Homo sapiens: one gene and its partners. The protein of the gene in region 7 interacts with the protein of the main gene of each other region in a pairwise test. Each region holds a gene or a part of one and is shown on either strand. Other genes may lie near its edges. The genes, in order: DPEP2NB, IQUB, NDUFAB1, PDE4DIP, COL10A1, VBP1 and ZNF410.

The links.
Region 1: the proteins of ZNF410 (region 7) and DPEP2NB interact in binary tests that used the Homo sapiens proteins (3 or more experiments, as listed by UniProt).
Region 2: the proteins of ZNF410 (region 7) and IQUB interact in binary tests that used the Homo sapiens proteins (3 or more experiments, as listed by UniProt).
Region 3: the proteins of ZNF410 (region 7) and NDUFAB1 interact in binary tests that used the Homo sapiens proteins (3 or more experiments, as listed by UniProt).
Region 4: the proteins of ZNF410 (region 7) and PDE4DIP interact in binary tests that used the Homo sapiens proteins (3 or more experiments, as listed by UniProt).
Region 5: the proteins of ZNF410 (region 7) and COL10A1 interact in binary tests that used the Homo sapiens proteins (3 or more experiments, as listed by UniProt).
Region 6: the proteins of ZNF410 (region 7) and VBP1 interact in binary tests that used the Homo sapiens proteins (3 or more experiments, as listed by UniProt).

What each region holds. Positions count from the first base shown.
Region 1 is NC_000016.10:68,013,112-68,017,410, forward strand, and holds DPEP2NB (DPEP2 neighbor protein), read right to left. Parts: upstream 2,801-4,299; 5' UTR 2,660-2,800; coding exon 2,593-2,659; intron 1,302-2,592; coding exon 997-1,301; 3' UTR 325-996; downstream 1-324.
Region 2 is NC_000007.14:123,524,596-123,528,095, forward strand, and holds part of IQUB (IQ motif and ubiquitin-like domain-containing protein), read right to left. Parts: intron 1-3,500. UniProt on the Homo sapiens protein: Adapter protein that anchors the radial spoke 1 (RS1) complex to the A microtubule of outer doublet microtubules in axonemes. The triple radial spokes (RS1, RS2 and RS3) are required to modulate beating of the sperm flagellum.
Region 3 is NC_000016.10:23,589,817-23,593,316, forward strand, and holds part of NDUFAB1 (acyl carrier protein, mitochondrial precursor), read right to left. Parts: intron 1,335-3,500; coding exon of another isoform or gene 1,277-1,334; intron 1-1,276. UniProt on the Homo sapiens protein: Carrier of the growing fatty acid chain in fatty acid biosynthesis.
Region 4 is NC_000001.11:148,966,428-148,969,927, reverse strand, and holds part of PDE4DIP (myomegalin), read right to left. Parts: intron 3,386-3,500; coding exon 3,272-3,385; intron 3,090-3,271; coding exon 2,952-3,089; intron 2,203-2,951; coding exon 2,023-2,202; intron 1,093-2,022; coding exon 898-1,092; intron 1-897. UniProt on the Homo sapiens protein: Functions as an anchor sequestering components of the cAMP-dependent pathway to Golgi and/or centrosomes.
Region 5 is NC_000006.12:116,123,333-116,127,264, forward strand, and holds the start of COL10A1 (collagen alpha-1(X) chain precursor), read right to left. Parts: upstream 2,801-3,932; 5' UTR 2,721-2,800; intron 2,176-2,720; 5' UTR 2,161-2,175; coding exon 2,007-2,160; intron 1-2,006.
Region 6 is NC_000023.11:155,222,960-155,226,459, reverse strand, and holds part of VBP1 (prefoldin subunit 3), read right to left. Parts: intron 1-3,500. UniProt on the Homo sapiens protein: Binds specifically to cytosolic chaperonin (c-CPN) and transfers target proteins to it. Binds to nascent polypeptide chain and promotes folding in an environment in which there are many competing pathways for nonnative proteins.
Region 7 is NC_000014.9:73,889,859-73,893,358, reverse strand, and holds part of ZNF410 (zinc finger protein 410), read right to left. Parts: intron 1,333-3,500; 5' UTR 1,184-1,332; coding exon 1,151-1,183; intron 1-1,150. UniProt on the Homo sapiens protein: Transcription factor that binds to the sequence motif 5'-CATCCCATAATA-3', and is specifically required to silence expression of fetal hemoglobin in adult erythroid cells.

The DNA of each region.
Region 1 (4,299 bases), on a different chromosome or scaffold from region 7:
GAAGAAAGAGGCTGGGTATGGTGGCTCATGCCTATAATCCCAGAACTTTGGGAGGCCAACGCGGGCAGATCTTGAGGTCAGGAGATCAAGACCATCCTGGCCAACATGGTGAAACCCCGTCTCTGCTAAAAATACAAAAATTGGCTGGGTGTGGTGGCGGGCGCCTGTAGTCCCAGCTACCAGGGAGGCTGAGGCAGGAGAATGGCGTGAACCCAGGAGGTGGAGCTTGCAGGGAGCCGAGATAGTGCCACTGCACGCCAGCCTGGGTGACAGAGTGAGACTCCGTCAAAAAAGAAAAAAAAAAAAGATGATCAAGTCAAATACTGTTATGGAAAAATAATTTTTTTAATTTTTTTTTAAATTGAGCAGTAGGGACCTCACTGGGGCCATAATGGGCAGGAAATAAAGTAACATGTGAGCTTCAGGGGGATGTTGCTCAACTTCCTCCTTATTGTTCTTGCTGTAGGTGGCAGGTCTCCCCAGGTCTCTTTCTTCTACCTCCTGAGATGCCAAGCAGGAGGCTTTCTCCTGCTGTGACTAGCCATGGGCTGCTGCTTCCAGTTTCAGCAAGTCCTGGCCCTCCTGGTTTGTGCTGGTAGTTGCTGGCAGTGACTCAAAGCAAAGACCCATCTGGTAGATCAAGCCCTTACTGGGCTATGCTGCACTCCCTCTCTGCACTTGACTCCTCGGCTAGCAGAGTGCAGACTATTTCTATCTTCTGCCCAAAAAGGGACTCTGGAGAGATGAGTAGAGGAACATCAGGTTTTCTTCCAGGCCGTCTTCAGCCTTGGGATGTTCAAAGCAACCTCTCATTTTAAACCACAGTTTCTGAGGCTCCTTGGCCATGGGTAGTTAGCATGGAAGGGGGCTTCTGGATGAGGAAGGCATAGGCAGAATGACTCAGGCTCTATCTGCAGTGGTGGGCAGGGGAGGTCACCGCAGAAGAGGCATTAGCTGTCTTAGACAGCTAAACATTTGTCCTTTCTCCCAAATGGCTCAGCCAGCAAGCTTCTGTGGGGTCAGTCTCCTGCCACGATGCTCCAAGCGCCGAATTTTGGGGCTAGAGCAACCCAGGTCTTTATCTGACTCTATCGTAGCTTGACGTCTCTTGGGAGCACGCCTGGGGGCTGGCTTCTCTGCTTCAGCCTTTGTTGGGGTGGCCAAAGGAGCATCCCCATGGACCCGGTAGCCACCAACCAGGCAGTACGTCTCCCCATGCCAGCCTACCTGAGTTTCTCCACACCCTCGGTAGAGAACATGGTAGTGCCCAGGTGTGGGAGGAGAAGTGGCAGGCACTGCAGCTGGAAAGAAAACCAGAATTAGTCACTTTTACCTTATACATTGTGCTGTTACAGCCTACCCTCTCTCGCGACTCTTCCTAAGAAGTCCTTTCATCTTCTTCGCATCCCAGACACAGCCTTGGCCTATCACCTCTATGTGTCCCTGAGACAGGATGCTGGCTGTGAAAGCAGTTATGTGGAGCCTGTGTCAGCAGCAGGAGACCAGGAGATCCTCCTCATCCCTTCCATGACCAAAAATACATTTCTTAAGGTCTGTCACATCTCAGGCTTTAATGGAAATTATTTTCAAGTTTTGTAAAAAATGATCTACTATCAGCCAGGTGGGGTGGTTCACGCTTATAATCTCAGCACTTTGGGAAACTGAGGAGGGAGGATCACTTGAGCCCAGGAGTACCAGCCTGGCCAACATGGTGAAACCCCATCTCTACTAAAAATACAAAAAATTAGTCAGGCATGGTGGCACGCACCTGTAGTCCCAGCTGCTTGGGAGGCTGAGGCAGGAGAATCGCTTGAACCTGGGAGGCGGAGGTTGCAGTGAGCCAAGATCGCACCACTGCATTCCAGCCTGGGTGACAGAGCGAGACACTGTCTCAAAAAAGAAAAAGAAAAAGAAAAAAAGGATCTAATATTGTGCCACTGCACTCCAGCCTGGGTGACAGAGCGAGACTAAAATAAAAAGATCTAATACAAATTGGTGGGCCAGGCACAGTGCCTCACGCCCGTAATCCTAGCACTTTGGGAGGCTGAGGTGGGCCGATCGCTTGAGCTCAGGAGTTCAAGACCAGCCTAGGCAACATGGCGAAACCCTGTCACTACTAAAAAGAGAAAAAATTAGCTGGGTGTGGTGGCGCGTGCCTGTAGTCCCAGCTACTAGGGAGACGAGTTGGGAGAATCCCCTGAGCCCAGGAAGTTGAGGTTTCAGTGAGCTGTGATTATGCCAGTGTGCTCCAACCTGGACGACAGAGAACCTGTCTCAAAAAAAAAAAAAAAAAAAAAAAAAATTCAGACCAGCCCCAGCAACATAGCAAGACCCCATCTCAATTAAAAAAAAAAAAAAAAAAAAAAGATGAGAACCTTTCTGAGCACCTGCTCAGATGACATTTCACTTGCCCTTAGCAGGTGAACTTGCCCTGAGCAGGAACACTGTGGGTCCCTGAGTGGCCACGCCCTCGATATTACTTATGGCTGGGAAAGCTCGAGGTGTGGTGGGCCAGCCCAGAAGGAATGTGTCAGCCAGGTGAAGCTGTGGGTACAGCAACGCCTCCTGTATAGATGCCCCCTGTATGCCTACCTGCTGCGCTGCCCTCCCAGGGGACAGAGGACATGTTAGAGACAATATAGAGGATCCGGTCAGTCATTCTCTCTCAGCCAACCAAACAGATTGGTATCTTACAGAGAAATGGTAGGGAGGCTTCTCTAGGACGCAGGTGTGTAGTCACGCTGCCATGGAAACTTTGGAAGCTTGTGAGGTCATCACTACCCTGTGAAGTCACCTAAGGAATCTGTGACTTAAGGGGCAGGCTTCAGGCCTTCAGGGTTTTGTGGAGGAGAGCAGGGCAGAGATAGAGAGGAATCCTGCCTGGGCCCTCCCATCCAGCCCTCCCTACAAATGCCTAGTAGCCACTCTGTGGGGCACATCTGTCGGCTGGTACAAGCCCCAGTGACCACAGGAGGGCAAGAGAAACCTAAATTCTGATATGAGCTGGAGAGGCAAGATTAATCTAAGAGATAGATAGGTAGCCACGCACTGGTGCTAAGCAATCAACAGCAGGAGAGGCAGAGATTGGGATGGACAAAGGGATCATGGAAGGCTCCTTCGAGCTGGACTTGAAGGACTGGTGAGATCTGGACACACGCAAAGAGTAACTGCCCAACGTGTTCCCCTTGCCACTGCCTAGACAAAGCTGATTTATCAAGACAGGGAAATTGCAATAAAGAGTAATTCACGCAGAGCTAGCTGTGCGGGAGACTGGAGTTTTATTACTCAAATCAGTCTCCCTAAGCATTCAGGGATCAGAGTTTTTAAAGATAATTTGGTGGGTGGTGGGCAGTGAGTCCGGAAAGCTGATTGGTTGGGTCAGAGATGAAATCATAGGGAGTCAGCTTGGGCGTGGCAGCTCGTGCTTGTAATCCCAGCACTCTGGGAGGCTGACCAGCCTGGCCAACATGGTGAAACCCCTAAAAAAACAAAAATTAGGCTGGACGCGGTGGCTCATGCCTGTAATCCCAGCACTTTCGGAGGCCAAGGTGGGCGGATCACGAGGTCAAGAGATCGAGACCATCCTGGCCAATATGGTGAAACCCTGTCTCTACTAAAAATACAATTTAGCTGGGTGTGGTGGCATGTGCCTGTAGTCCCAGCTACTTGGGAGGCTGAGGCAGAAGAATCCTGAATCTGGGAGGTGTGGGTTGCAGTGAGCTGAGATCCAGCCATTGCATTCCAGCCTAGTGACAGAGCGAGACTCTGTCTCAAAAACAACAACAAAAACAAAAAGTTAGCCGGGCGTGGTGGCGCTGTCTGTAACCCCAGCTAGCTACCTGGGAGGCTGAAGCACTGAAACCCAGGAGGCAGAGATTGCAGTGAGCCAAGATCATGCCACTGCACTCCAGCCTAGGCGACAGAGTGAGACTCCATCTCAAAGGAAAAAAAAAAGAAATCTTAGGTAGTCGAAAGTATCCTCTTGCCGAGTCAGTTCCTGGGTGGGGGAGCCACAAGATTAATCTGGGTGGTGTCAGCTGATCCATCAAGTGCAAGGTCTTTTTTATTTTATTTATGTTTTTTGAGACAGAGTCTCACTCTGTTGCCCAGGCTGGAGTACAGTGGTGCAATGATCTTGACTCACCGCAACCTCCCCTTCAAGGGATTCTCGTGTCTCAGCCTCCTGAGAAGCTGGGACTACAGGCACCTGCCACCACGCCCAGCTAATTTTTGTATTTTTAGTAGAGACAGGGTTTTGCCATGTTGGCCAGTCTGCTCTCAAACTCCCCCGTCCTCAAG
Region 2 (3,500 bases), on a different chromosome or scaffold from region 7:
TTGGGCTGAGACAATGGGGTTTTCTAGATATACAATCATGTCGTCTGCAAACAGGGACAATTTGACTTCCTCTTTTCCTAATTGAATAGCCTTTATTTCCTTCTCCTGCCTAATTGCCCTGGCCAGAACTTCCAACACTATGTTGAATAGGAGTGGTGAGAGAGGGCATCCCTGTCTTGTGCCAGTTTTCAAAGGGAATGCTTCCAGTTTTGGCCCATTCAGTATGATATTGGCTGTGGGTTTGTCATAGATAGCTCTTATTATTTTCAGATACGTCCCATCAATACCTAATTTATTGAGAGTTTTTAGCATGAAGTGTTGTTGAATTTTGTCAAAGGCCTTTTCTGCATCTATTGAGATAATCATGTGGTTTTTGTCTTTGGTTCTGTTTATATGCTGGATTACATTTATTGATTTGCGTATATTGAACCAGGCTTGTATCCCAGGGATGAAGCCCACTTGATCATGTTGGATAAGCTTTTTCATGTGCTGCTGGATTCGGTTTGCCAGTATTTTATTGAAGATTTTTGCATCAATGTTCATCAAGGATATTGGTCTAAAATTCTCTTTTTTGGTTGTGTCTCTGCCCAGCTTTGGTATCAGGATGATGCTGGCCTCATAAAATGAGTTAGGGAGGATTCCCTCTTTTTCTATTGATCGGAATAGTTTCAGAAGGAATGGTACCATTTCCTCCTTGTACCTCTGGTAGAATTCGGCTGTGAATCCATCTGGTCCTGGACTCTTTTTGGTTGGTAAGCTATTGATTATTGCCACAATTTCAGCTCCTGTTATTGGTCTATTCAGAGGTTCAACTTCTTCCTGGTTTAGTCTTGGGAGAGTGTATGTGTCCAGGAATTTATCCATTTCTTCTAGATTTTCTAGTTTATTTGCGTAGAGGTGTTTGTAGTATTCTCTGATGGTAGTTTGTATTTCTGTGGGATAGGTGGTGATATCCCCTTTATCATTTTTTATTGCGTCTATTTGATTCTTCTCTCTTTTTTTCTTTATTCGTCTTGCTAGCGGTCTATCAATTTTGTTCATCCTTTCAAAAAACCAGCTCCTGGATTCATTAATTTTTTGAAGGGTTTTTTGTGTCTCTGTTTCCTTCATTTCTGCTCTGATTTTAGTTATTTCTTGCCTTCTGCTAGCTTTTGAAAGTGTTTGCTCTTGCTTTTCTAGTTCTTTTAATTGTGATGTTAGGATGTCAATTTTGGATCTTTCCTGCTTTCTCTTGTGGGCATTTAGTGCTATAAATTTCCCTCTACACACTGCTTTGAATGCATCCCAGAGATGCTGGTATGTTGTGTCTTTGTTCTCGTTGGTTTCAAAGAACATCTTTATTTCTGCCTTCATTTTGTTATGTACCCAGTAGTCATTCAGGAGCATGTTGTTCAGTTTCCATGTAGTTAAGCGGTTTTGAGTGAGATTCTTAATCCTGAGTTCTAGTTTGATTGCACTGTGGTCTGAGAGATAGTTTGTTATAATTTCTGTTCTTTTACATTTGCTGAGGAGAGCTTTACTTCCAAGTATGTGGTCAATTTTGGAATAGGTGTGGTGTGGTGCTGAAAAAAATGTATATTCTGTTGATTTGGGGTGTAGAGTTCTGTAGATGTCTATTAAGTCCACTTGGTGCAGAGCTGAGTTCAATTCCTGGGTATCTTTGTTGACTTTCTGTCTCGTTGATCTGTCTAATGTTGACAGTGGAGTGTTAAAGTCTCCCATTATTAATGTGTGGGAGTCTAAGTCTCTTTGTAGGTCACTCAGGACTTGCTTTATGAATCTGGGTGCTCCTGTATTGGGTGCATATATATTTAGGTTAGCTCTTCTTGTTGAATTGATCCCTTTACCATTAAGTAATGGCCTTCTTTGTATCTTTTGATCTTTGTTGGTTTAAGGTCTGTTTTATCAGAGACTAGGATTGCAACCCCTGCCTTTTTTTGTTTTCCATTTGCTTGGTAGATCTTCCTCCATCCTTTTATTTTGAGCCTATGTGTGTCTCTGCACGTGAGATGGGTTTCCTGAATACAGCACACTGATGGGTCTTGACTCTTTATCCAATTTGCCAGTCTGTGTCTTTTAATTGGAGCATTTAGTCCATTTACATTTAAAGTTAATATTGTTATGTGTGAATTTGATCCTGTCATTATGATGTTAGCTGGTTATTTTGCTCATTAGTTGATGCAGTTTCTTCCTAGTCTCGATGGTCTTTACATTTTGGCGTGATTTTGCAGCGGCTGGTACCAGTTGTTCCTTTCCACGTTTAGCGCTTCTTCAGGCGCTCTTTTAGGGCAGGCCTGGTGGTGACAAAATCTCTCAGCATTTGCTTGTCTGTAAAGTATTTTATTTCTCCTTCACTTATGAAGCTTAGTTTGGCTGGATATGAAATTCTGGGTTGAAAATTCTTTTCTTTAAGAATGTTGAATATTGGCCTCCACTTTCTTCTGGCTTGTAGCCTTCATTTCATTCATTTCATCTTCCATCGCTGATACCCTTCCTTCCAGTTGATCACATCGGCTCCTGAGGCTTCTGCATTCTTCACGTAGTTCTCGAGCCTTGGTTTTCAGCTCCATCAGCTCCTTTAAGCACTTTTCTTTATTGGTTATTGTAGTTATACATTCTTCCAAATTTTTTTCAAAGTTTTCAACTTCTTTGCCTTTGGTTTGAATTTCCTCCTGTAGCTCGGAGTAATTTGATCGTCTGAAGCCTTCTTCTCTCAGCTCGTCAAAGTCATTCTCCATCCAGCTTTGTTCTGTTGCTGGTGAGGAACTGCGTTCCTCTGGAGGAGGAGAGGCACTCTGCTTTTTAGAGTTTCCAGTTTTTCTGCTCTGTTTTTTCCCCATCTTTGTGGTTTTATCTACTTTTGGTCTTTGATGATGGTGATGTACAGATGGGTTTTTGGTGTGGATGTCCTTTCTGTTTGTTAGTTTTCCTTCAAACAGACAGGACCCTCGGCTGCAGGTCTGTTGGAGCACCCGGCCGTGTGAGGTGTCAGTCTGCCCCTGCTGGGGGGTGCCTCCCAGTTAGGCTGCTCGGGGGTCAGGGGCCAGGGACCCACTTGAGGAGGCAGTCTGCCCGTTCTCAGATCTCCAGCTGCGTGCTGGGAGAACCACTGCTCTCTTCAAAGCTGTCAGACAGGGACATTTAAGTCTGCAGAGTTTACTGCTGTCTTTTTGTTTGTCTGTGCCCTGCCCCCAGAGGTGGAGCCTACAGAGGCAGGCAGGCCTCCTTGAGCTGTGGTGGGCTCCACCCAGTTGGAGCTTCCCAGCTGCTTTGTTTACCTAAGCAAGCCTGAGCAATGGCGGGCGCCCCTCCCCCAGCCTCGCTGCCGCCTTGCAGTTTGATCTCAGACTGCTGTGCTAGCAATTAGCGAGACTCCGTGGGCGTAGGACCCTCCGAGCCGGGTGGGGGATATAATCTCCTGGTCCGCCGTTTTTTAAGCCTGTCGGAAAAGCGCAGTATTCGGGTGGGAGTGACCCGATTTTCCAGGTGCCGTCTGTCAC
Region 3 (3,500 bases), on a different chromosome or scaffold from region 7:
TCCCAGCTAATCAGGAGGCTGAAGTGGGAGGATCACTTGAACCTAGGAGGCAGAGGTTGCAGTGAACTGAGATCATGGCTCTACACTCCAGCCTGGGCGGCAGGGTGAGACTCTGTCTCCAAAAAGAAAAAAAAAAAAAAAAAAAAAAAGAAATGGTACGATGCCAGGTGTGGTGGCTCACGCCTGTAATCCCAACACTTTGGGAGGCCAAAGTGGAAGGATCGCTTGAGCCCAGGAGTTCCAGACCAACCTGGGCAACAAAGCAAGACCCCTGGTGAGGGTATATTCTATGTTCGTACACAACTACCCATGAGGCCAACTAGGTTGTCAGCATTGTCCTCAGCAGCTCCAGCAAGTACCTACAAGGGCCAGGTGGGCACCATGTGATTAAATTAAACGAGTCTCTGACTGGAGGCCACATGCCAATCTAGAGTGGGTGCTGCATCAGGATCAGCGTGAGGCAGTAAGTTAGTGGGCAAGAGCTCAGACGCTGAAACTAGACCACCTATGCCTGCACCATGGTGCTGGCTCTCACTAGTTGTTTGGCCTTGGGTGGGTTACTTAACCTTCTACATCTCAGTTTCCTCATCTGTAAAATGGGGATAAACAACAGTACCACACTCACAGGACTGTTGTGAAGCATCAGTGAGATGAAGTAAAGGCTTGGACATTGGCTGGCACTTAACACAGTAAGTGCTATTTAGGGTTATTTAGTAGGATCCTGAGAACAATGACCAGCAGCAGCTAGTTTGATACCTTGGCTGTAGCGTAGCCCCAAAATACTTGATCCTACTACCCTCTCATGCTCCTGCCTCTGGTCTCTTTTTTTTTTTTTTTTCAGACAGAGTCTCACTGTGTTGCCCAGGCTGGAGTGCAGTGTTGTGACCTTGGCTCACCACAACTTCTGCCTCCCAGGTTCAAGTGATTCTTATGCCTCTGCCTCCCAAGTAGCTGGGATTACAGGCGTGCACCACCATGCCTGGCTAATTTCTGTATTTTTAGTGGAGATGAGGTTTTACCATGTTGGCCAGGCTGGTCCTGAACTCCTGGTCTCAAGTGATCCACTCACCTCAGCCTCTCAAAGTGCTGGGATTACATGCATAAGCCACCACGTCCCGGCCTCCATTAATTTCTTATCAGCTCAGGCTATGATATTGCACTTTACACACATCATCTTTCTTCAGCTCTCCAGTATTCTGGTGAGATCCATGATACTATCACCCTCCTTTTTACAGATGAGAAACTGAGGCAAGGGAAGGTTAGGTATCCTCCTCACCCCATGTCCTTCCAGCATGGCCTCCTGGAAGGTCTTGCTGCTCCTTCTAACTGGATCTCTGTTGATTGGGAAAAAATAAAAGGGATACAAAATGGACAAGCACCTCCCCAACAGCCAACATGTGATGTTTCTGGTGTTAGTTGTTCTTCCCCAAGATCTACACTTAACAAGTATATGGGAAATAAACCACCTCTCCCAGACATCAGAGAAGGTACTGTTTGCAGGTAAAGAGTGATGACCCTCTGGGCTAGTAATTCAAACAGATGAGGTTCCATCAGAATCCCGGTACTCCACTGGGGCTCACTTCTGCCTGAGGCAAACTCAGAGGAGGCTAAGGAGAGGGCTTTAAAGGCCGTCTCTACAAACTGCCGACTGGTCCACTCTACACAGGCAGCCCAGACCTCTCAAACTCAACAGTTTGGAAATGAACTCCTGACCTGTCTCCAAAACTCCTGCTTACAGACCTCTGTTCCTTCTCCGCCACCTGGGGCTTATTCCTTCAATAAGCCCTGTTTCATGTTCACTCCCTATGACCTTTGCAGAGAATACCCACAATTCCTCGCTGCAGCATACAGCTCCCTTCATGATATGCTCACTCTCTTCCCCCCAACAATGTTCCCTTCCAGACACCCTAAGAGTCAACCACAAGGAGGTAAGTGCCAGGCTCTTCCTGGCCTCTGCACAGGCCTTCAAGATCACGTTCACTGAGAGATTGGTCAAGTATCTCTTTTTGCTTTTGCACTACACACACCTGTTTCACAATGCCTTGCCTTTATTTACACGACTGTCTCAGAAGCCTGGGAACTTTACCTGTGTGCCAAGAACTGTGCAATGGGCTGGAAATGCAAAGATGAATAAGACACAACCTTCCCCCAAAAGAAGCTTACACTCTAATGGAAAAGACCAATCCACAGATCATTTTAGTTGAAATAAAAATATGGCAAGCACCATGACAGAAGTATCTGTAGGCTGATGCAATAACAAAAGTTGTCACTCAGTCCTTGAGTGGCCGGAAAGGAGGATGCCAGACTTGGATTTGGTGAGGAAAAGAGCTGAGACTGATAATTCAAGGAGAGGGAAGAACAGGTCAAGAAAACGAAATGAGGTCAGGCGTGGTAGCGCAGGCCAGTTATCCCAGCTAGTCAAGGGACTGAGGCAGAAGGATTGCTTGAGCCCAGGAGTTTGAAGCTGCACTGATATATGATCATGCCACTGCACTCCAGCCTAAGTGACAGAGACCTTGTCTGGAAAAAAAAAAAAAAAAAAAGTCATGAAAGTGCAGTGCCTGTGTCTATGTGAGAAGACATCAGCTCATGTTGGGAGATGGTACACAGATGACAGGCTTGGAGGCTAAGAGGGAGGGCCCAGGTCTGCAGAGCCTTAAGGGCCATGGGAAGGGACTGGGACTTTGTCTGGTCCTGGTCCCAGTCCTGGAATAGCTAGCTTTTTTTTGTACAAGTGCTGTCTTCATCTGCGTACCATGCCCCATAGAACTGCTGGAAATTATCTTTGTGCTCCATCTGCTAGACAGTGTAGATTCGGGGCCTACCTGGATCAAGTATAAGACTTCCAGGCTGCATTTTAGGCCATTGCCCTTGGTTTTTGTTTTTTTGTTTTTTCCTTACCTTCTATTTTATATCATCTGGTATTTTTATACCCAGGAAAACTGCCTTAGCTCCTTTTGGGAAAAAGGGTGTAAATGAGTGACTAGTTGCTCTGAAGTTGGCATAGTGGATGGATTTGAGGAGAGGAAATTTCACAGCAGGGAATAGGTAGCATGAGCAATGGTCCAAATGAGATGAACAAGGACTGGAGGCGGAGGTCTGGGATATACAGCAATAACAGAAACCAGGAGTGAAGAGTCCAGGGAGCATGTGTGGTAAGAGAACTCGGGAGCCCACCAACATTTAAGGGTTAGGCACACCAGGTGTGATGGCTCATGCCTGTAATCCCAGCACTTGGGAGGCTGAGGCAGGAGGATTGCTTGAGCCCAAGAGTTCACAACTAGCCTAGGCAACATAAGGAGATTCCGTCTCTAAAAAGAAGACAGACATCAAAAAATTAGGGGTGGTGGCTCATGCCTGTAGTCCCAGCTACTCAGGAAGCTGAGGCAGGAGGACCATTTGAGTCCAGGAGGTCAAGGCTGCAGTGAGCCACGATCATGCCACTGCACTCCAGCCTGAAAGGCAAAGTGTCCCAACAAGGTAGGAGGACAAACCAACCA
Region 4 (3,500 bases), on a different chromosome or scaffold from region 7:
CGTAAGCCAGCCTGGCCAACATGGTGAAACCCCATCTCTACTAAAAATACAAAACTTAGCGGGCATGGTGGTGCATGCCTGTAATCCCAGCTACTTGGGAGGCTGAAGCAGAAGAATTGCTTGAACCCAGGAGGCAGAGGTTGCAGTGAGCCAAGATTGCGCCATCGCACTCCAGCTGGGTGACAGAGGGAGATGCCATCTCAAAAAAAAAAAAAAAAAAGAATTTACTTCTTAAATATTGTGAAATTAATATACCCTGTACTATTATGAGATTGTTTATTCTCACCATGACCTCTGAAAAATGCGATCTTTTTTCCCTCTTAACTCAGATTTTACAAAAACTAAGAGTAAACATGTTGAGTGTAAGTTTTCCCATACCTTGACTGGAAATGCAAAATATCACTCAAGTCTTAACAATTTAGAATCAAAATCGAAACACTCACAACCCCTACTCCTTTCTCTCAAAATTATCAGATTATTAAGGAAAAGAAAATGTATGTAATGAAGTTAATGGATACATGTATTGTTTAGGCACCCTTCCAAATGCAAGGTTTTCAAGAAATGTGTCATACTTTGATGATTAATGTAAAACTGTGGTCTAAGGCCAGGCGCAGCAGCTCACACGTATAGTCCCAGCACTTTGGGAAGCCAAGGCAGGATGATTGCTTGAGCCCAGGAGTTTGAGACCAGCCTGTGCAACACAGCGAAACCCCCATCTCTAAATAAGTAAGTAAATAAATAAAACTGTGGTTTAGGTAATAAATAGAAGGAAAGAAACTAACAGAGTTGACGGTAAAATATATAAATATACACACATCTATAGTCTGCAAATGCTTCCTATTTGCAGACTATAAATGCACTACATGACACTTGTCTGATCTGTGCATTAATCCTTACTTGGCTTTCCTGCTCCCTGGTGCTCACAGACTGAAGCAGGCCTTGAATCTCCATTTCATGTTCCAGCACTTGTTTATTTCGATCACTTAGAAGGTCCTGCAGCATCCTTTCCTTTCGCTGTAGACGCTGGCACAGCTCCTCTGCTATCTCACTCTGCCCTGGTCCAAGTTTGCAGAGCAGTGTTGCACTAAGATCCTAATGCAGAAAGGACACTGTAAGCTTCTGGAGGAAAGAAATGCCTCTGCTAAATATCAAAGGGCTTATAAGAATCTATCATAGAAGAAGGAGGTGTGAGATTCTTGAGAATAAGTATCATGTTTTACTCATTTTTGTTTTACCAGATCTAGCACAGGCCTGCTACACAGAAGTCTCTAAATACATGTCCCAGGAATGAATACAAACCATACAGAAAACTATCTCTGGTGGCCACTTACATACATATTGTTTTCTGAAATAAGTCTTTTTCCTATTTGTTCAGGGCATGTAACAATTAATGTTAGATGAGGATAAATGGACACTCAGTTCATTTATTTGTTTTCTCCCCAGTGTAACTTAACAGGGGGAAGCATAAAACGATAAGCTGAAAGGAATACTAAACACTATATTTGCTATCATAGCGATGGTTTCTATTTCTGTACTAACTGATGGCACATGGTGGAGGAATGGAGCCATACTGCCTAGGTTGATACTGGATCTGCTACTTATTAGCTATGTTAGCTTGGACAAGTTACTTAGCTTCAGAAGTCTGTTTCCTCCTCTATAAAAAGGAATAATAGAAAGTACCTCATGGACTTGTGAGGATCCAATGAGTTAATATCCATTAGGATCTTAAAACAGTACCTGACCCAGCATGAAGACTATAACTAATAAAGGTTAGCTATCATGTTAAAGATGCAATTTTTGGGTCTCATTAATTCTCACATAAGTTCTTTGAGAAAGTTAATTGCCAACTTAAGTTTCTAGACGTGGGGAAAAAAAAAATCCCAGTGAAAGTCAATGACTTGCCCAGGCACAGAATGAAATTAAAGACTTGGGTCACAGTCCTCCCAATCTGAAGAGTCCTAATCCAAGGCTGAGATTACATAATCACTGAACCAACTGCCTTAAAGTTAACTGAAGTCTTGCCTCCACTTCTTTGTTCCTATCATGAAGAGACGTCTGTAACTGCTGAATGATACTCTCTTGTTCCTTCTGCCAACGGCTAAATTTGGTTTCCATTTCTTCTTTCAGCCACTGGAGGTTTTGACAGGTAGTAGATAACTGTTCCACTTCCAGGCCTTTGGCCCTCAGGAGACTCTCCATACTCTACAGCCATAAAGAGAGCAATAATCAGTCAAAATGATTACCCCATACTCCTCAGGATAAACAAGAAATTAGATCCACTTTTAAATAATCTCCCATCAATTTTTTTTTATTTGCAAGATGAGAACATTGATCTAACAATGCCATACTAATCTATTTTTTTGGTTTTTAGAAACTTTTATCTAGTTTGTGGAGAGATTAAATATAGAATATATGATAAAAGGAAGTATTTTGGAGGAAGTGCACTATGCTATAAAGGATTTCTCGAAAAAGTGGCAGATAGATACATAAGCTCTAAAATAAATATGCAAAAAAGTCCACAGTAAATATAGATAAACAAGTGTTCTAATTATGGCAATTCATGGACATGTAGATAATATTAATGTAGAAGACACAATTTAATAATTGCACCCTGGTAATGCTTCAGTAAAAGTAAGAGAGAGAGAGAAGAGCGTGTGTGTATGTATACTTATGTATGAACAAGAATTGGAAATAAATCAGAACTATGTAAACAGAAATCAATATTTACTGGCTCTCCTCACAAAGTTCATATTACAAAAGAAAAGTAGAAGCGCTAAAATCTCTCACTTGCTAATTGACAATGATGGAACTAGTAACTGCTCTTTTTGGTTTTCTTCCCCCTTATAAAGCAAAATCCCTGGTTTTCAGAAAATGATGGAAGGGGGTCATGCTTCAGGCTCAGGATACAAGTGGGAGAGGAACACCAAGTCAGAGATAGGTTTTGCTCTTACTTGCATAGTAGCTTCATTGGAGGAGAGGACATCGCGCAGTCTCTCTAAGTCATGATCTCGCTCTCTCACAGCAAGACGAAGCTGGCGCAGTTCTTTTTCTTTCTCTTCTAGAGCAGAGAATTTTTCATCTATAGCCCGCTGCAAGGAAAGGAAGACTCCTAAAGCTCTGTAAGATTTACTATCCTGATCACTCTTATTCAACAAGATGGCAGAATAGAAAACCAAATCCCAAAGCAGCAAATTTAAGCAAACACAAATTTCTATAATACCTATGTAGATAGAATAATCCATAGCATAGTGGGCGAAATGATGATACATACCTCCAGAGCAACAGCTTTATCATGTATTCGCTGGCGAAGTTTCTCAAGCAACATTTCATTTGCTTCAAGGGTTTTGTCTGAGTTATCTCGATACTGTAGGAGCTCCCGAAATTCCTGAGACCAAAAATAGTTTCTTTTATTCTTTTATCCAATATTAACTAAATTACCAAGTAATTTGCTAGTTATTCAGGATAAAAAAAAAACAAGATGTGATCACTCTCCTCAAAAG
Region 5 (3,932 bases), on a different chromosome or scaffold from region 7:
CTTCTATTGAATGCTTGGGGGACAGCCCCTGTTTGTAGGTTGTCATCTGAAAAAATTTTCTTCATTCAAGATTAGGGTGGCACAATCCTCAAGGTAAAACGACTACTTCCTTCTATTAAGTTTTTTAAATGCCACAAACTGAAATCGTGATTGGTTGTGTCAGAATGTGGCACGTGCATCTGCCCACCAGCTGTGGAATCCTCTGCAGCATAATTTAGTATGTTTTGACAGAACTCTTTTTTAACCTGTGTTGGATGGATATGCCTAGGAATTATGTAATAACTCTTTGAATTCCTGTTTCAACTTAATGTCTTACTTGTATAGACTGTGGGCTTTTGTGTTTGTTATGGTGCATTAATGTCTGCCAATGGATGATAGTGTAGTTGAGTGTCTATCTAAAAAGAGACTAAGGTGGATTTAGTAGTTTAAATACAGCTTCTGAACTTTTCATTTGTTAAGATATTTTCATTTGTTCTGCAAAAGTAGCCAAGATAATGGTGTATATTAAGAGAAGATCAAAGTATTTTTAACCTTCTAAAATAGTGCATTTTCTTTTTAATTCAAGACTTTGTTATGCTCTTATTAAGGTGTTAAAAAGTCTGATTTTTGTGATCATGGAAACTATTGAATCCAGTGCTGTTTGTCATAGCATTTCAAATTGTGTTTGTTGCTTCAAGTAAAGCGGAAGGTTGCTTTGTCTTTTATTTTTTTCTTTACTAGCCTTTAAATTTTAAAATTTTTATTTATATTTTGAGACATTCAAAAGTATCTGTTGTATACCTGTGCATTTATTTTCAAATATTAAGTTTCCTTTTGTGAAATATTTTAAATTCCATCTTTCTTCTTAAAAAGACAATTCTATAAGTTTCATTGCTCAAAATGGTTGTTCCCAAAAGCATAATATTTAAACTTTATAACAAATATCCTTAGCTTTATTTACAGTATAAAATATATAATTAAAAAATTATGGAAAGGGAGTTTGAAGCCTACAGTCAGTTTATATTATTCTGTAGATATTTTATAGGCGGTCGTGTCAGTTGCTGTTAAATAAAATTAGTGAATATGAGGCCTAGAAGTTGCCCTCCTTTGAGAACCTTAGTGCTTTACATATATTATCTCAGTAATCTTCAAAGAGTAACCAAGAAAACTGGACAGGTAAGCAACAGATTCAAGAAGAAAGTTAACTTATTGAAGGCTATATTAGTAGCTAAAAGTAGTAGAAATAAAACTAGGAGTAACAGAAGTAGTAGTAGAAGTAATAGCAACACTTAAAGCACTTTACAGGTATTAATTCATTTAAACTTCGCAGCAGCCCTTGAGATAGCTGCTCCTTATTTTACAAATGAGGAAACTAAGGCATGGGAGGACAAGTAACTTACCTCAGGTCACACAGCTTATGCATTACAGTTAAGTCTCTGCATTTTACCGCTAAACTATATTCAAAATGTATAAGTAATTATGAGAATTGCAGTTTCATTTGCCTGCTTGGCAATTCTCATAATTACATTTGTTCATTGTTGGGGGGGAGGCCATCAGATTTTTTTGATAAGACTCGGTTTTATATCTGTTTGTGGGCTAGTTGAATTAGTTTTAAAAGTAAATGTTTAATATTTAGCTAAATAAACCAGCTACCTTCTTTATACAATTGGCAGTTATTTTTAGCTTAAAATTTTTAAACTTGATTAGTTTTGATTAGATCAAGATTTCTGGATTACATGCAGTTATTTGTGCAAAAGCAGCATCTGAGAAAAAAATTTGTACACACAAAAGTTCTGATTTTTTGCAGGTATATCTTTCAACTATATTTTCAAGTATATCCTTTCTACTACACTTATTGGATATTCTTGTTCTACTTTTTTCACAGATCACTTTGTTGTAATAATTTGGGCTAATTCAGAAGTTGGAAAGTAACACCAAAGTTAAATGCATTTTGTTAAAGAGATTATTAAGATTATAGAAAGCAACAAGCAACTTGTTAATAGAACAAAATATACAATTCAATTTACCTTTACTCTTTATGGTGTAGGGAATGAAGAACTGTGTCTTGGTGTTGGGTAGTGGGCCTTTTATGCCTGTGGGCATTTGGTATCGTTCAGCGTAAAACACTCCATGAACCAAGTTCAAGGATACTAGCAGCAAAAAGGGTATTTGTGGCAGCATATTCTCAGATGGATTCTGAAAAACAGAAAAGAATAACTTTATACAGCATTGTTATTAACCTATTTTTTTATTCTCATGTTTCACAGATGAGTTCTTTATACAGTTATCTACTTTTTTAACCTATCCTATATATTTTTAATATGTGCCATAAATAAATGAGAGATCATTTTTTAGTTATGTGAATATATGTCTTAGTTATTTTTGGAAGCTATACTCAGGTAATCAAGTGAAAATAAAATGATTTACCTAAAGGAAAAGAAACAGAAATTAGGATTGGATGTCTGTATTAAATAATCTAGGATCTTTGACATAGCCTGAAATATCTAATAGTTTCAAAATACACTGAAATTCGGATTAGGGCAAATTTTTACAATATGGTTTTATTGGGACTATCATCCACAGACTGATGCAAAAAGAACTTTTGGAGTGCATTTTAGTAGAAACCCATTTTTTAAATCACTTTAATACTTCTAATACTTGAGAAAACTCAAGTATTTAAATCTTTAAAGTTTCTTTCCAAGCAAGTTAACATGGAAGTCCACCAGTAAGCGTACGCTTACCTGCGTGCTGGGAGTTCCTGGAGATGGTGCCTTGGCAGCTTTCTGAAGCTTCCTCTGCCCAGATGAGCAGTGCAGAAGGTGCCTCTCAAGAGCTGTTCAGTGGTATTTATACTGTTTTTCCCTTACTACATGAGGTTACCCTGAGCTTAAGCTCCTCCCCTCAAAGTTGGTAAGCACTAATTATGGTGGAAAGTTCTATTGGGTAGGCACACAAGATCGGGCTGGGCTCTCCTTTTCCTTGTTTTCTTATTTAAAAATAAACCCATTGTCTTAAATATATATTAATAGTTTTAACCAAGGACCGTCTTTGTCTGTGATTCTATTTTATTAATTAATACTCTAGTGTTCAGGCTGGTTCACGGTGGAATGATGATACCCCCTTTTTATTTTTGAAAAGCACATTCTTATGTTAATTGGTTGATATTATATAATATGTGGTAGTACATAAAAGCGGATAAAATTCCTTGAAGGGGGTACTGGATTTAGACCATCATCTAAATTATTGAGTTATTACATAAAGTTATCAATGTGTCTATTAATATTCATAAATTTTTGTGAAAATAGCTGACCCCAATTCTTAATTACTTTTAGGCTTTTAGGATTTAGATCCCTTATTCACAACACTACGCTATATTCAGTAAATGACTTCAGATTTTCTTGCTTAAATTTGGGTTTACTTTAGAGTTGCAGTAGAGTTTGCAAAAACCCCTTAATTTGATAATCTCATATTATGTTAATTTACATAAGATTGCTGTGTTTATTTCAGGAGAAAAAAATTTTCAAACTTTGCTTTCAGCTTAAAAAAAATATTATTGGCTTAACTTGCAGTTAGGAATCATCCCAATTAGAAACACTTTCCCTCAAAGGTGGAAGTAAACACTATTGTTGTCAATTTTGGTAGTTAGACTCTGTTTAACAATATTAGGAAGCCTTTAAAATCAGTTTTTAGGATCCTAAAAAATCTAATAAAGGTGGGAAGTTGAGAGTCCAAATTTTTCATCTTATTTAATTTCATCGTTTTGAATCAAAATCAAATTGACTATGCAGGTGAACTGGTTGAGGAGGACAATTCCATACACAGGCATAGACACATCATTTTTCTACCTCCACAGAATTAAAGTAGTATGGATTCAGGACTAATCAATAATTGAAATAATTGAAAGTTTGACCAGTGAATGAACTAAAGATTTGTCCTTTTTCTTTTCCCTTTCT
Region 6 (3,500 bases), on a different chromosome or scaffold from region 7:
AATTATAAATGGATCACTGATTTAAACACAAGAAATTTAAAAAAACAATGATGGACATGATACAACTGATCCGACTTAATGGATAAGTTATATGATAGCTACTAGCAAAATGCTAGTAAGTGACTCCCAAATGCAATCAACCTCACTGACAAGAACATAAGAGAAAAACAGTATGCTAAAAACATTCAGTCAATTAAAGAGAGAAAACAATGATACCGTTTTTGTCACTGGGGTTTAGCTCTTTATGGTAATTAGATGCATGTGTTTTGCATGGAGATATATGCAAAACAGTTCTAGGGTCTCTGTCAAATGTAATTTCTAGCAAAACAGACTAAGGATATAAAAACGAAGCTCTGGTTCTTTCGAGGTAAATTTACTAAATATTATTAGAGACCAAAATGTAAACAAAATATAAACACAACAATGAAAATGAACTTATTGCGTCACATAAAAGAAGTCACTCCATGTGTGCAGCAGGTTGGCAGGGCAAATTTACTACACCCTGTGCTACTGACCTGGCAAGAAATGTGTTAAATGAGCCTGCTGCTTAAGAAAAAAACATAGTGTCATCATTTGATAATACAGTCCAGTGAATAATCTAGAAACACCTAGCATTCATTTTTTCACTACAATTCAATCTGGATGCCATAGATTGCTCAAGTTTGCTTATTTTTGCATGATATGTTCATATAGGTAAACAGAAAGATGTTATACATTTGTAAAATATGTGATACACACACAACATAAGGAGTATGTTCAGATCAAGATTTTTTGTCATGTAAATGACTTTTAAGATGCATTCTGTATATATAAATATTATATGTAATATGCTATAAAGCATATTAATGAATCAATCAGATGCAGCCCTAGCTAACTTAGGAACCAGACCACCAATGACACAGCACATGCCCAAGCAATACACTCCTCCCTACCCTGCTTCACCTGAAGAGAAAGTAGCTTGGCTGGGCACAGTGATTCACGCCTGTAATCCCAGCACTTTGGGAGGCCGAAGCGGGTGGATCACCTGAGGCCAGGAGTTCGAGACCGGCCTGGCCAGCATGGTGAAACTCAGTCTCTACTAAAAAAAAATACAAAAAAATTAGCTGGGCGTGGTGGTGCATGCTTGTAATCCCAGCTACTTGGGAAGTTGAGGCGGGAGGATCCCTTGAATCCAGGAGGTGGAGGTTGCAGTGAGCCGAGGTAGCGCCACTGCTACCCACCAGGAGTGACTTAAATTACCCCCACCTCCACGTACATTACTGGCCAAAGTAGCTGATATCCCTGAGGGAATCTAAGCTGACAGGGAAAAGACATTATAATTTGATCATTATAATAAATAAAGACAATAAATTCAACAACCTCTACCATATGAAACAAAATTAACAAATACCAAAAGATAAAACTATACATTAAATACTTAAAGATACCACAAAGAGAAAAGAAAGGATATTGGTAATATGAAGAGGAACCAACCAGAACTACCAGCTATAAAAATCTTAACAGCTGAAACAAAGAACTCATGGCTATCCATCTAATTGCCAAAAGATAAATGACAAAGACAGAAAAAAGGGAAATAATATAAATAAATGGAAGGCAGAATTAGAAGTGTCAACATCTGTAAACAGGAATCCCAGAAAGAAAGAGGAAAAAAAATTAACAGACGATAGAAAAAGTGATAATCACAAAATTTCCAATTAAAGAAAGATAAAAGATCTCAGATTCAAGTGTCGAAAAAGAGATTAACACATGAAATACTAAGGAACTTTTACACAGCTTGAAGGGTAAAGTTAAATGACAGGCTGCAAGATTTACAACACATACAAAGAAAAAGGCTAGCCTCACCCTCACCCTCGCCCTCGCCCTCTTTGCATGGTCTCCCTCTGATGCCGAGCCGAGGCTGGACTGTACTGCCGCCATCTCGACTCACTGCAACCTCCCTGACTGATTCTCCTGCCTCAGCCTGCCGAGTGCCTGGGATTGCAGGCACGCGCCACCACGCCTGACTGGTTTTCGTATTTTTTTGGTGGAGACAGGGTTTCGCTGTGTTGGCCGGGCTGGTCTCCAGCTCCTGACCGCGAGTGATCTGCCAGCCTCGGCCTCCCGAGGTGCCGGGATTGCAGACGGAGTCTCGCTCACTCAGTGCTCAATGGTGCCCAGGCTGGAGTGCAGTGGCGTGATCTCGGCTCGCTACAACCTCCACCTCCCAGCCGCCTGCCTTGGCCTCCCAAAGTGCCGAGATTGCAGCCTCTGCCCGGCCGCCACCCCATCTGGGAAGTGAGGAGCGTCTCTGCCTGGCCGCCCATCGTCTGGGATGTGAGGAGCCCCTCTGCCCGGCCGCCCACTCTGGGAAGTGAGGAGCGCCTCTTCCAGGCCGTCATCCCGTCTAGGAAGTGAGGAGCGTCTCTGCCCGGCCGCCCATCCTCTGAGATGTGGGGAGCGCCTCTGCCCAGCCACCCCGTCTGAGATGTGAAGAGCACCTCTGCCCCGCCGCCACCCCGTCTGGGAGGTGAGGAGCGTCTCTGACCAGCCACCCCGTCTGAGAGGTGAGGAGCCCCTCCGCCCGGCAGCCGCCCCATCTGAGAAGTGAGGAGCCCCTCCGCCTGGCAGCCGCCCCGTCCGGCAGGTGGGGGGCAGCCCCCGCCCGGCCAGCCGCCCCGTCCGGGAGGTGGGGGGGTGCCTCTGCCCGGCCGCCCCGTCTGGGAAGTGAGGAGCCCCTCTGCCCGGCCGCCACCCCGTCTGGGAGGTGTACCCAACAGCTCGTTGAGAACGGGCCATGATGACGATGGAGGTTTTGTCGAATAGAGAAGGGGGAAATGTGGGGAAAGGAAGGAGAGATCAGATTGTTGCTGTGTCTGTGTGGAAAGAGGTGGACATGGGAGACTCCATTTTGTTCTGTACTAGGAAAAATTCTTCTGCCTTGGGATGCTGTTAATCTATAACCTTACCCCCAACCCCGTGCTCTCTGAAACATGTGCTGTGTCCACTCAGGGTTAAATGGATTAAGGGCGGTGCAAGATGTGCTTTGTTAAACACATGCTTGAAGGCAGCATGCTCGTTAAGAGTCATCACCACTCCCTAATCTCAAGTACCCAGGGACACAAACACTGCGGAAGGCGGCAGGGCCCTCTGCCTAGGAAAACCAGAGACCTTTGTTCACATGTTTACCTGCTGACCTTCCCTCCACTATTGTCCTATGACCCTGCCAAATCCCCCTCTCCGAGAAACACCCAAGAATGATCAATACTAAAAAAATTAAAAAAAGAAAGAAATAGGCTGAACTCACTTATGAACAGAAATTCAAAAATCCTAAATAAAATAATAGCAAATTGAAAAAAAAAAAAAACAAAAAGGCTAGCATGTAAACTACATAGAGCCATCTGCTGCAAAACAACTAGATCATGACACAAAAATAGTTTTGTTGCATAGCTGACATCATAGGAGTGAGAGAAATTCCAGAAAAATAAAAAGAGAAAAGTAGCCCTCCAACTACTTGGGAGGCT
Region 7 (3,500 bases):
GTAAGTATACTCTACCATGTTCGCATAATAATGATATCAACTACCATCATATTTCTCAGAATGTATCTCTATCGCTAAGTGACACTTCACTGTAATTAAGTTAACCTCTGCCACCTTCTGTCAAACAGAGAAATGATAAAAATAATTACATTTTAAAATAATGGCTTAAAAAAAATCAACTGCATCATATTGATTACATTTTACAAAACACTTTTCTGTGTACTGGCTCATTTAATTATCGCATTAACCCAGTAAGATTTAAGATGTATTTTTTTTTGAGACAGAGTCTTGCTCTGTTGCCCAGGCTGGAGTGCAGTGGCATGATCTTGGCTCACTGCAAGCTCCACCTCCTGGGTTCACGCCATTCTCCTGCCTCAGCCTCCCAAGTAGCTGGGACTACAGGTGCCCGCCACCACGCCCAGCTAATTTTTTTTGTATTTTTAGTAGAGACAGGGTTTCACCATGTTAGGCAGGATGGTCTTGAACTCCTGACCTCATGATCCACCTGCCTCGGCCTCCCAAAGTGCTGGGATTACAGGCGTGAGCCACCGCACCCAAACTTAAGGCATATTTTACAGCTGAGGAATAAAATTGAAGACATTAAGTGACTTGTCTAAGGTCACAAGACTAGTTAGGAGCAATGCCAATCCTCAAATTTAAGTAATCTGATTCCAAATTCAGTGACCACTCTGCAACACAGATGTGCTAAATTTAAAGTAAGAAAAGTGAACAACAAAAAATGTTTAAATCCCCAATCACATTTAGAAAGAAAATACTTACAGATATATATAAAATAAACAAAAGAATTTGTAGTAGTAAATATTTATATACTTATACACCTATACATCACATGTATCTCATATTTATGTATATATTTATACATAAACATATATTTTTATTTATAAGATTTTATTACATTATCTAAATGTATGATTTCACATATACTGAAAAACAGATATAAAAACAATCACAAAAAATATAATTTTTAAATCTTTGAAAAAATAGTAACAATCAAAACCATATAGCTTAAAAAACCTAAAATATTTATTATCTGGCCCATTAAAGAAAAAGTTTGCTGACCCCCTAAACTGAAGATAAACTTTGAAATATAGCCCACCAAAAGAAAAGGAAACAAGCTGACTGGGCTCACCTCTGGTTTGGATTCTAACTCATCTGATAACATTGATTCAGCTTCCAAAACCTGTAGCTATTCAGGGGACAAGTTCAAATTTAATTCAGAGCCAATGATACCTTCCTGTTATGTTCATATTCCTCTAGGAAATACTATGCTCTTCCCGTAAGATGTTGTACTAGGTGGGTAATCAATGTAACCTAGAATAGGGGTAAAAAAGAGAGAGGGGGCATTAAGAGCAGTGGGAAAACACAGGTACATAAAGACACTTCTTTACATATACAAAAAAAATCACAACAAGCAAGCAAATAAAGAATTCAAACCGAAACACTTCTTTTAAAATACAACAAGCTCAACAGGCATCAAAACCCATAAAAATACTACGCTTTGATGCAGTATTTCAACCTCTAATAATCTAAAAAACTATCTTAAATATGGATAGAGCTATGTCCAAAGATGTCCGTCTTATCCTATGTAATAAACAACTGGAAGCAATGTATACACACACACACACCCCCAATTAGGGAATGGTTGATTAAATATGGCACTGTCACTTCAAAATATGCTGTGAAGGGTTGGGTGTGGTGGCTTACAACTGTAATCCCAGCACTTTGATAGGCTGAAGCAGGTGGATCACTTGAGGTCAATAGTTCGAGACCAGCCTGGCCAACATAGTGAAACCCCCTCTCTACTAAAAATACAAAAATTAGCTGAGCATGGTCGCAGGCACCTGTAATCCCAGCTACTCGGGAGACTGAGGCAGGAGAATCCCTTGAACCCAGGAGGTGGAGGTTGCAGTGAGCCAAGGTCAGACCACTGCACTCCAGCCTGGGCGACAGAGCAAGACTCTATCTCAAAAAACAAACCAACAAACAAATGCTATGAAGACAATGCAACAACAAGTGACTGACATGTTAAATTATAAAAATAAAATACAAAATTATATACTTGCTATTATTAAAACTAGTTATAATAAGCATCAGAAAAAGTAAAAGGAGATTCATACAGCTATGACCGTAGCTATACCGTGTGGTAGGCTGGTGTGACTTAATTTTCTTTTCTCAATTTTCCAATATTTCTAAAAGGCAACCATATTGTTTTGATAATTTTTAAAATTACATTTAAAAAAAAAAAAGTTAAAATTTGAAGAGCGTTTCCCAAAGGTAGTGCTCTCAGGACCCTGATGCGGCTGTTCTCTCTCTTTTATTTATTTATTTAGAGATGGAGTTTTGCTCTTGTTGCCCAGGCTGGAGCACAATGGCACGATCTCAGCTCACCACAACCTCTGCCTCCCAGGTTCAAGCAATTCTGCCTCAGACTCCTGGAGTAGCTGGGATTACAGGCATGAGACACCACACCTGGCTAATTTTGTATTTTTAGTAGAGACGGTTTCTCCATGTTGGTCAGGCTGGTCTCGAACTCCCAACTTCAGGTGATCCGCCTGCCGTGGCCTCCCAAAGTGCTGAGATTACAGGTGTGAGCCACTGCGCCCAGCCACTCCCTATAACTTAAATTCTTACTTTCTTATAGCTTAGTTTCTTTTCAGGATTTTGGAATGTGAGTCCATTTTATTTTGTACAATTGTTACTAAAATTGGGAGCACTATTACAAATAATCATACAGTGTAAAATGTATCCAGGATGGGTATATTTTCAATCAATGGGTACTTTAAAGTTTCCAATTAATACCAGGTAGTGTGGAAAGGTAGAACAAGACAGACTTTACAAAGAGGGCACTTAGGCTGGGCACGGTGGCTCACGCCTGTAAACCCAGCACTTTGGGAGGCCGAGGCGGGTGGGTCACCTGAGGTCAGGAGTTCAAGACCAGCCTGGCCAATATGGCGAAACCCCGTCTCTACTAAAAATACAAAAATTAGCCGGGCATGTGGCGGGTGCCTGTAATCCCAGCTACTCGGGAGGCTGTGGCAGGAGAATCGCTTGAACCCGAGAGATGGAGGTTGCAGTGAGCTGAGACTGCGTCACTGTACTCCAGCCTGGGCGACAGAGCAAGACTCCATCTCAAAAAAAAAAAAAAGTAACTGAATAAATGTTTTTTTGTCCTGTTGGTTTCTCCCTCTCTCTTTCTAAGCTACCTGAAATCCTCATTTTTCATTGTAAAAAAGTAACCATTTAGGCCGGGAGCAGTGGCTCACGCCTGTAATCCCAGCATTTTGGGAGGCCGAGGCAGGCGGAACACAAGGTCAGGAGATTGAGACCATCCTGGCCAACATGGTGCAACTCCGTCTCAACTAAAATACAAAAAATTAGCTAGGTGTGGTGGCATGTGCCTGCAGACCCAGCTACTCAGGAGGCTGAGGTAGGGGAATCGCTTGGACCTAGGAGATGGAGATTGCAGTGAGCCGAGATCG